Linked DNA regions of Homo sapiens: all the other regions are reported to be linked to region 1. The links are microRNA targets in miRTarBase. Many come from high-throughput screens and were not tested one by one. Region 1 holds a microRNA gene; each other region holds the end of a gene's coding sequence. Distances are between the middles of the regions.

Region 1 (3,257 bases):
AGATGCTGACAGCGGTTTCCATGGGAATAAGGGAGGAGGGGAATCCCAGGCTCAAGATCTGGGACATGGAAGGTGTTCAGGGAATGACAGGGCATGTGCTCGTGGGAAAACTTCAGGCCATTACAAGACAATGGACGAGACTCAGTGGGCAGTGTGGCCTTAAACGTCATGCCCTCCCCTGTAGTATAAAAACTGATTCCTTGGCCTCCATCTGCCTTGATTTCCTCATCTCTAACACGGTTTATAACCTATTTGAGAAGCAGGCATGCACCTGGAAAGACAAATGCAGTTTAAATAATGCATGCTTTTAATCATCTAGATTAGCAACTACTAGGAGGATGCGTTTTAAAACATATATAATGTTTATCTTTTCCTCCCTCCACAACTACCTGCTTTTCCCCAACCAAACAGCTCAAAGTTGACAGGATGATAGAAATGAAAGTAATTTACATTGCATAGAAGTCACTCCTATTGGAATAAGCAACTCTGTGTGTCATTTAGAAACTAATTGGCTCAAAGGCATGGGATCCACAGGAAGACAGAGTGAGTCCTATGGACATGGAGGGCAAATGGGCAGGATGGCCCTTTCACAAAAGGGAAATGGGCAGGAAAATAGGCAGGATGGTACCTTCACAAAAGGGAAATGGGTGCTGTTGGCTGGATGTCCACCATGTGCCAGCCACAGCAAACCCACTTAGATGCCTTAGCCTTCTTCTCACCACAAGGACTTGTGTGCCATCCAAGCCTAGAATTCTCTGCTTTCTTGATCATGAGCTGTCACCTAGCACGGCCTGGCTTTTCTCTCCTTCCCACGTGAGACCTTGTCCTTTGTCTACCCCTAGTGGTGGTGATCCTGAGGGGACCTGAAGGCTAGGCCCAGGGATGGTTCTGTGCTCTGTGTCTATTCATGCATGCATTCCAGAAACACATTTGAGTGTTCACCAAGTGCTCAGCACTTTGCTAGGCATTATGACTCAGATGAGACCCTTAGCCTCCCGGAGTTTACATCTTTGTCACGGGCATAAATCAGTGACTAAGGCAATGGGTGGTGAATTGAGGGTGGGTCTGCGGTGTGGTGGAATGGGCTCTTCTGCTGTGAGCCTTTGTATTCCTTCCCCTAGGAACGGGCACGCGCTCTTGGCATTCATGTTCTCGCGTCAGGAGGGCAAGTTGAACCGCCAGCAGACCATGGAGCTTGGCCACCACATCCTGAAGGCGCACATTTTCAAGGTGAGATGCACACCAACTTGGGGAAGGGTTTCTTTGTTGTCATTTTGAGGTTTTGCTTTGGAGATTTTAGACAGCTCTGTCAGCCATCCAAGAAACGCTCCATGCACCTCAGCCCAAATGCAACCTCCTCCTGCCTCCCCTCTCCAAAAGTAACCGCTGTTCTGACTCAGCCTGGGCATTTCCTTGCATTTTGCTATAGTTGATTGCTCAAGTGTATATCAGAGTGCTGTGCTTAAGTTTTACTTCTTTCCACCTTTAAATCTCTGATAAGTTTCTTTTTATCTAAAGGTTCCACTTTGTTCATTACTTTTTGTTTCCTTATTATTGATTTGTTCGAGAACCTGAGTTTCTTGACCTGTGTGATTTTGTACCACCTGGACTTTCTGACTGTGTTTGCCCAGGCTGGAGAGCAGTGGTGGGATCATAGCTTACTGGACTCAAGCCATCCTCCCGCCTCAGCCTCCCAAGTAACTGGGACTATAGGCACGCTCCACCTTGCAGGGCTCAGATGGTGATATTCTAATTCTGTCATTTATTCTTCCTCTAATTTACTTCCAACATGGTAAAACCTTGTCTCTACTAAAAATACAAAAATTAGCTGGGAGTGGTGGCATGTATCTGTAATCCCAGGTACTTGAGAGGCTGAGGGATGAGAATCACTTGAGCCTGGGAGGTGGAGGTTGAAGTGAGTTGAGATTGCACCACTGCACTTCCAGCCTGGGCGACACAGCAAGACTCTGACTCAAAGAGAAACTCTCATCTGCCATCTCTCTCCCAAGGCACAAAGTTAACCTAGTGAAGGCAGGCTGGTTCCTTGACCCTTGGTTTCAGGTAGTGAAAGCTCGCATGTCCAGGCATTCTTTGTGTGTGACCCCGTGCCTTCTGCAGGTATCTGCACCCTCTGCGGCAGACCCACTTTCAGAGTGACCCTGCAGGTGGGAAGGAGATGCTCAGGCAGATCTGTCTCTGATTGTTTCCAAGATCTGTCTCGATTGTTTCCAGGGCCTCAGTAAGAAGACGGGAATTTCTTCAAGCCATCTCCAAGCCCTGTGGATCGGCTACAGCACCGAGGGGCTGTCCGCCGCCCTGGCCTCTCTCAGGAATCTCTATACTCCCAACGTGAAGGTGAGCAACCTTCTGCACAGAGAGCCGGAGACCCAGCCCTGGCCGGCTGCTGGCCGTTCCTCCAACAGCCCTGTTTCCCTCTGCCCTGGGTGGTGGTGAGAGGACGCAGAGGAGCTTCTAAAGATGTGCTTCCCTGATCACACGGGCTTGGGTGCTGTATTACTCGTTCTTCCAGAAGTTTAGCTTTTCTTTGGCAGGAAGATGTGGGTGGTCAGGGCTGCTCTGAGCACATGTGGTGACTGTTTCACAGCAGATGTGATAAGGAAGCAATTTACAAAAGAAATCAAAGATCAGAGAGATTTCTAGGGAAAACGGATTTTTTAAGTGTCCTGCGTTACTAATCTGGACCATCTCTTCAGAGTTCATGGGAAATTAAGCATGGATGGGTGATGCATAGAGATAAGTACACAGAAAAACAAACATCGAGGTTTCATGTATCCATATTTCTGCCTATGGAAAGGGTATCAGCATGGCCTTCTGTGGAGCCAAGAGCTTCTTCACTTCTTGGTCAGTGGCTTTCATGTCATGATGTTCCACTCAGCTTTTTAAGGTAGATTTTTCTTCCTGATTTCATGTAGCCTGGGAATCTGAAGCACACAGAGGCCAAGCAGCCTGTTAAGGCCACAGAGACAGTGTCCAGGCCTTTCAGCTTCAGGCCCTGATGTACCCGGCTGCCTGTGGAAGCCCTGGGTCAGTTTAGGGAGCCAGGTCTTCCCCCCGAATCACTCACATTGTTTCATCTTTCATTTCAGCTAAGAGTGTATCTCTCGGCTTCTCCATAACTAATAAAATTCTATAATCATAAGAAAGATGAGAATAAAAATGGCAATATGTTTTCATATGTTAATGAATTTCTGGGCATAGAATTTATTTTAATATGGAAATAAGTAAATGGGAAACAT
Region 2 (3,257 bases), not on the chromosome of region 1:
CTCACCACATGAAAAAGGTAAAAAAAATTCAGGAGATGTCCTCTGTTACCTCTGGCAACAGAGGGCATGTCATCTTTTTTAGTTTTTTCTTTCTCAGCTTATTCTCCCTGGACTTACCAGATATAACTCAATTTGCCTACAGCATTTATTTTGTTATCTAACATTCTGAAATCCGGGGATGTTGAGTAAGACCACAGAGATTAGTTCAGCCTTCTTAGAAATCAGTGAGGTTAAGGACTTGCAAGGATAGAAACCTCTAGATAGATTAGCTGAGATTAGAACCTGGGTTGCCTTTCCAGCATATTATTGCTACTCATGGAAACTAGGGTTCACAGATTACTTCCAAAAAATAACTTTGGGGTTGTTTTCAAAAGGATTGGTATGTCTTTCATAGAAGAACATTCGAAGAACACTTAAATGATTTTGGCAGAGCTATGACATCTGAGTAATTGATTCTTTTTTATTTTTCACTTCTCTAGGCAAATCCACCCTGTTTGCTGTCTACTGTGCAGTATATCAGTAGCTTTTATGCTAGCTGTCTGTCTGGAGAGGAGTCCTATTGGTGGATGCAGTTCACAGCAGCAGTAGAATTCATTAAAACCATCGATGACCGAAAGTGACCAAGACCAAGGCCCACCAAGGCAGCAGACTGTTAATCAGACAAACAGATCTCTGAGAAGGTGCATCAGCTGCTTTGAAGGCTGAAGATTGTTTTGTATGATACTGCACAGCATCAGGCATTTTAAAGCAGATCTTTACTAAACAGGTTAATGAGCTAACAAGCAGGTTCTCTCGTCTTTGGGCTCTTTCCTTTCTGAGTTGCATATTCTATTTTCTTGTCCCCAAGTAGAGACTAGTACTACAAAAAGGGACCACATTTTTCAAGTATTTCTAAGTATAAAAAACAAAACAAAAATCTCTTAGGAAATGTCTAGACCTCCATTCTTGGATTCCCTTTCTTTCCTTTTATTTTAAAAAAGAACAGTACCCCTCTTTTAAGATGCTGTCTTACATTAATGAGCATCTAATGGAAAGAAGGTATGAGTTGCACTGAGGATTAGAATAGTGGTGCGTTAGTGGCATTATCTATAAATACACTCACCTAAATTGAAAGCTAAGAAGGAAATGTAAATATAATATATATTTATATTTGATGTAATATGGACATCTGCAGATTCTAATAAACAAGGACTATTGCTGATAGTAGGCTGTGACATACTGTCTTGTGAAATGGTTTCCTTGACAAAATTTAAGCTGAGCTTAAAAGCAAAAAACAAAAAGTACACAGAAATATTTATTAAAATGTAATACAGTTTATTGAACTTTCTAGGTATGGAGTTTGATGGACAGGGCTGCCTTTAATGAGTGTGAAGGTCACTAAGTCACTTAGACATCTCACCGTGGAAGTTTGTGAGCCTGCATTAGGAGATAGACTGATTACCATACATGACATAAAAAGGAACAGTGGATAGCTCATACTTTATGGTGGTTCTTCTCCTCCGAAATAATATACTGCAGAAATCCCAGACAGAGCTCCTTACAAACCTTTAATTGTAATATATTTTTGATGATTATTCACATTGAATGCACAGACCAAGAATTCAGTGAATGTCATTTTTTAAAAAACTAATTTGTATTGTCTGCTCTAGTGATACAAGTTTTACTAGTGATAAACTATTTTAATCAACCATACTATTCTTATGGAAAAAAATATCTATTTTGGCAGGTTTCTGTGCCTTTATTTCCCTCTTCTGAAAAAAAGTCTGTGTTTTCATAGTTTGGTTTGCATTGTATATCAATAATTAATCAGGAATGGGTTTTGGTGCCTGAAAAATTGGCCATGGAGGCACACCAAAGCTTCAAGCACAAGTCTTGTACATGGGCCATCACTGTCTGGTTTCACTTCGTGTGTTTCCTAAACACATTTAGCTGCTTTTTTAACAAACTCAGCCCCATACTTGAGTCCCTTGTTGTTGGGAGCATTTCCAGGCATCTTTTAAGGGAACTGTGACAAACAGCCTCGGGCAGATGAACACGGAGGCTCTCTGTTGTCTGTCTCTGAGATCTTTGTGTCTGGGAATGCCTAAAGATTTTATTTTTTTTTCTTTGTTTTTATTTTATTTTATTTTATTTTTTTGAGACAGAGTCTCACCCTGTTGCCCAGGCTGGAGTGCAATGGTGCGATCTTGGCTCACTGCAACCTCCACCTCCCAGTTCAAGTGATTCCCCTGCCTCAGCCTCGCGAGTAGCTAGGACTACAGGCGCATGTCACCAAGCCCGGCTAATTTTTGTATTTTTAGTAGAAACGGGGTTTCACCATGTTGGCCAGGATGATCCTCAATCTCCTGACCTCGTGATCCACCCGCCTTGGCCTCCCAAAGTGCGGGATTACAAGCGTGAACCACCCTGCCCAGCCAGAAACTAGATTTTCTTTATGCCTCCACCCCTTCTTATTCATTTACTTTACAATACCAAAATAACAAATTGCATAGGAGTGTGGGATGTGGTTTCTGCCTTCTAGAGAGAGATCAGAATTAAACTAGTACTATGAAATGTCCTTTTGAATGTTAGGTCAAGAAATCCATGTACAGAGTCGTGCACTTCATTGGCTGTAACTGTCAAACTTGCCTTGTATTAGAAGTTAAATCCCATCGTAAATACATCACGAGGCCAGCTGTGTGATTTCTGAGACCTAGATGAGAGTCCATTTACTTCAGCCTTTGATTCAGTAAATGTTAAGCAGCAGAAGACTTCGAATGGTTGAAATTCATTGTTACAGGATTTAACTCATAAACCAATGAGAGATTTTTTTTTTCTCTGCAATGGTTGCTAAGTCTATTCCATGTTAACACTGTGGAAATAAATATGAAGATGTGGACATTGCATCGGGGCTCTTTTCTGTGGAAGAGAAGGTGGTGGGATTGGGGTGAAGGGCTACACTGGAGGCAGGAGATAGGGCTGTGCTGTGTTGGAGCCGGGGCTGAGGGTAGACCCCCCAGAGATTTGACATCTGTGACACCTGTGAAATGGGTTCGGGTGCTCATGACTCCATAGCTGGCGGAGGAGCACAGCACAGCTGTTGCAGGGGCAGCTAAGGTTTCCTCTGAAAATCTGTCAGGAGCAAGGACTACTTTGGCATTAACCATCACTGTTTGATTTCTTGACAGGTATGTGAGATGGGGAGTGATTTGATTTTTTTTTTTTTTTTTAATAGAAAAGAGGAATAGTTGTTCCCCAAATGTTTCTTCCTCCACTGC
Region 3 (3,257 bases), 150 Mb from region 1:
TGAGTTCAATTTCTCTCTTGGGATCTTACCTTGAGAGGTTTGAATCCTCTTTTGGGTCTTCAAATGGTAAGTAAGTTTTCAGGATGCTTGAAAGCTAGTAATTACTGTTTTTGCCATTAAAAGTAATGGCATTAATTACTTTTGCACCAACCTAGTATTTTTTAGTCACTTAGGTTGAGTGAGCCTCACCTAGCACTTTTTTCTTAGCATCACAGTGCCAACAGAATAAGAGGCTGTTTGATGGGTAAGGGTGGAGCTGTGAGGACCTCCGATTCATCTTTTATTCCTATCAATCAATTGAACCCATGTCTTTGCAGAACGTCGAAATGCTGAGCAGCATGGATTCTGCATCGGTTCGCATTATCAAACCCTTTCCTGCGCCCCAGACTCCAGGCCGCCTGCAGCCTGCCCCTGTGATCCCTTCGGCGCCAGCAGCTCCAAAACTGGACCACCAGAGAATGGACACCATCCAGGAAGACCCCAGCACAGACTCACATATGGACGAGGATGGGTTTGAGAAGGACCCCTTCCCAAATAGCAGCACAGCTGCCAAGTCATTTGAGGATCTCACGGACCATCCGGTCACCAGAAGTGAAAAGGCTGCCTCCTTTAAACTGCAGCGTCAGAATCGTGTTGACAGCAAAGAAACAGAGTGCTAATTTAGTTCTCAGCTCTTCTGACTTAAGTGTGCAAAATATTTTTATAGATTTGACCTACAAATCAATCACAGCTTGTATTTTGTGAAGACTGGGAAGTGACTTAGCAGATGCTGGTCATGTGTTTGAACTTCCTGCAGGTAAACAGTTCTTGTGTGGTTTGGCCCTTCTCCTTTTGAAAAGGTAAGGTGAAGGTGAATCTAGCTTATTTTGAGGCTTTCAGGTTTTAGTTTTTAAAATATCTTTTGACCTGTGGTGCAAAAGCAGAAAATACAGCTGGATTGGGTTATGAATATTTACGTTTTTGTAAATTAATCTTTTATATTGATAACAGCACTGACTAGGGAAATGATCAGTTTTTTTTTATACACTGTAATGAACCGCTGAATATGAGGCATTTGGCATTTATTTGTGATGACAACTGGAATAGTTTTTTTTTTTTTTTTTTTTTTTTGCCTTCAACTAAAAACAAAGGAGATAAATCTAGTATACATTGTCTCTAAATTGTGGGTCTATTTCTAGTTATTACCCAGAGTTTTTATGTAGCAGGGAAAATATATATCTAAATTTAGAAATCATTTGGGTTAATATGGCTCTTCATAATTCTAAGACTAATGCTCTCTAGAAACCTAACCACCTACCTTACAGTGAGGGCTATACATGGTAGCCAGTTGAATTTATGGAATCTACCAACTGTTTAGGGCCCTGATTTGCTGGGCAGTTTTTCTGTATTTTATAAGTATCTTCATGTATCCCTGTTACTGATAGGGATACATGCTCTTAGAAAATTCACTATTGGCTGGGAGTGGTGGCTCATGCCTGTAATCCCAGCACTTGGAGAGGCTGAGGTTGCGCCACTACACTCCAGCCTGGGTGACAGAGTGAGACTCTGCCTCAAAAAAAAAAAAAAAAAAAAAAAATTCACTATCTACAAACCTAGAATATTTAAAATACAAAGATTGCCTGTTTTCAAACACTATTGAATAAGAGGGTGAGATATTTCTTAACAACAACAACAACAAAAAAAACAGGTTGTTTTGAATGTGATGAGCCAGCCAGGAGATAGAATACTACCTGCCCTTAGGGTTGGGGGCTGTCCCCACAAGACTTGATACTTCAGAAACCCTTTTTATTGACCCACAAGCAGATATTTGAATTACTTCTTACTTTATTGCTCCAGGATTCTGGATGGGCTGCATTTACTGTGTGAAGGATAAAAATCATTAGCCTGGATTCTGATTTCTATAAATTGCCATTAAAAGCTTTTTTTCCCCTAAGAACTGAAATGTGCTCACCAGCCAAAACATTTTAACTTGTAAATTTTGAGGGCAGTTAACCAAACCTGTGACTAATCATATCTCCTCCTACCCCCCATTTCCAAGGACATTTGTTACTCAGATACTTGTTATACTAATACTTGAACTTGTACCTTATGGTATTTGCTATCTTTTAACTAGTCATGATATTCTTATACTTTAGTTACACTTTTGGAATTTGATACAAGGTTGAGTGGGGTGTGTGGGTGTATGTATGAGTGAAACAGTTCTCAAAAGAATGTAAGAAAAACCATTTTTATAAAATTGTGACTTTTTAAAAACATAGTCTTTGTCATTTATAGAATTAACAAGCTGCTCAGGGTATATTTTATAGCTGTAGCACTGATATCTGCATTAATAAATACTGTCGAAACACAATGGACCTAAGTATAAAACTTCCCTGAAAAATCATCTAATACTTTTATTATTAATATCAGTGGCAAAGGTTTAAGCCTGAGGAAAAAAGCGTACCTCTACGTATTGACAACTTTGAGTTCTGTAGATAACAAGCAGATTTGGGTCTCCTGTGATTGGCTAATGGTCTCCATCTCCCAGCAGACTTAATTCAGGTTTTGCTTCTGCTACATCCCGCCAGTAAGGAAGCAGCAAAGGTAGAGAAGAGACCTTTTTCTCTATCAAAGGCCAGAGATGCGAGAACAAAAATTCATTCCCCTTTGGAGACAAATGTAGTCCATCTGATAAATAAGATGAGAAGTCCTAGAAGGGAGAGAAATCGGTTAAAGGTGGGTAACTGGCCACGTGTGGTAGCTCACCCCTGTCATTCCAACACTTTGGGGCCGAGGATTACTGGAAGACAGGAGTTTGAGACCCTGTCTCTACAAAAAATTTTAAAAATACAAAAATTAGCTGGGTGTGGTGGCAAACACCTGTATTCCCACCTACTTGGGAGGCGAAGATGGGAGGATCACTTAAGCCCAGGAGTTGGAGGCTACAGTGAGGTATCATTGCACCACTGAGTTCCAGCCTGGGTGATAGACTGTCTCCCCCCACAGCGCGCGCGCGCGCGCGCACACACACACACACACACACACACACACACACACACACACACACAAAAAGGCCGGGGAGGGAGGGTATAACTTTTCTAAATGCCAGTGTGTACCATTCTCTCATTTGTGGCCCTGCGACAGAAATATCACCAGCCCCTTTCATTGTAGGCATCTGACCAGAGGTGTCTTGGACTACAGTAGCACTGATGTGCTATTTACGTAGGTGTTTGAACACACAGAGAACCCTGACTAGTGCTATAGTGCTGTCTCCATAT

The links. Region 1 holds the annotated microRNA hsa-miR-6888-5p (AAGGAGAUGCUCAGGCAGAU, at 2,171-2,190, shown strand). A microRNA usually pairs through its seed, bases 2 to 8, with sites in the 3' UTR of a target mRNA and lowers its output. Matches are read on the target gene's strand: a 7mer-m8 pairs with bases 2 to 8, a 7mer-A1 pairs with bases 2 to 7 and ends in A, and an 8mer does both.
Region 2: the mRNA of GAPVD1 is a reported target of hsa-miR-6888-5p. Seed matches in the 3' UTR shown: 7mer-m8 at 2,341-2,347.
Region 3: the mRNA of IAH1 is a reported target of hsa-miR-6888-5p. Seed matches in the 3' UTR shown: 7mer-m8 at 1,714-1,720 and 7mer-m8 at 1,129-1,135.

Annotation. Positions count from the first base shown.
Region 1 is chr2:159,184,670-159,187,926 of GRCh38, forward strand. MIR6888 (microRNA 6888) reads left to right here and starts at 2,166; the gene lies at 2,166-2,232. It overlaps TANC1 (tetratricopeptide repeat, ankyrin repeat and coiled-coil containing 1), which reads left to right. Exons shown (of 27, transcript NM_033394.3): 15 at 1,122-1,230; 16 at 2,233-2,355. RefSeq lists an enhancer at 933-1,102 and a cis regulatory region at 1,018.
Region 2 is chr9:125,362,127-125,365,383 of GRCh38, forward strand. GAPVD1 (GTPase activating protein and VPS9 domains 1) reads left to right here. Exons shown (of 28, transcript NM_001282680.3): 28 at 480-3,257. The coding sequence ends at 620. Among named protein-coding and RNA genes, the nearest start is that of GAPVD1, 100 kb to the left of the region's middle. RefSeq lists an enhancer at 1-18.
Region 3 is chr2:9,487,579-9,490,835 of GRCh38, reverse strand. It overlaps IAH1 (isoamyl acetate hydrolyzing esterase 1 (putative)), which reads right to left. Exons shown (of 6, transcript NM_001039613.3): 6 at 1,094-2,689. The coding sequence ends at 2,507. It overlaps ADAM17 (ADAM metallopeptidase domain 17), which reads left to right. Exons shown (of 19, transcript NM_003183.6): 19 at 318-2,350. The coding sequence ends at 659. Among named protein-coding and RNA genes, the nearest start is that of IAH1, 15 kb to the right of the region's middle.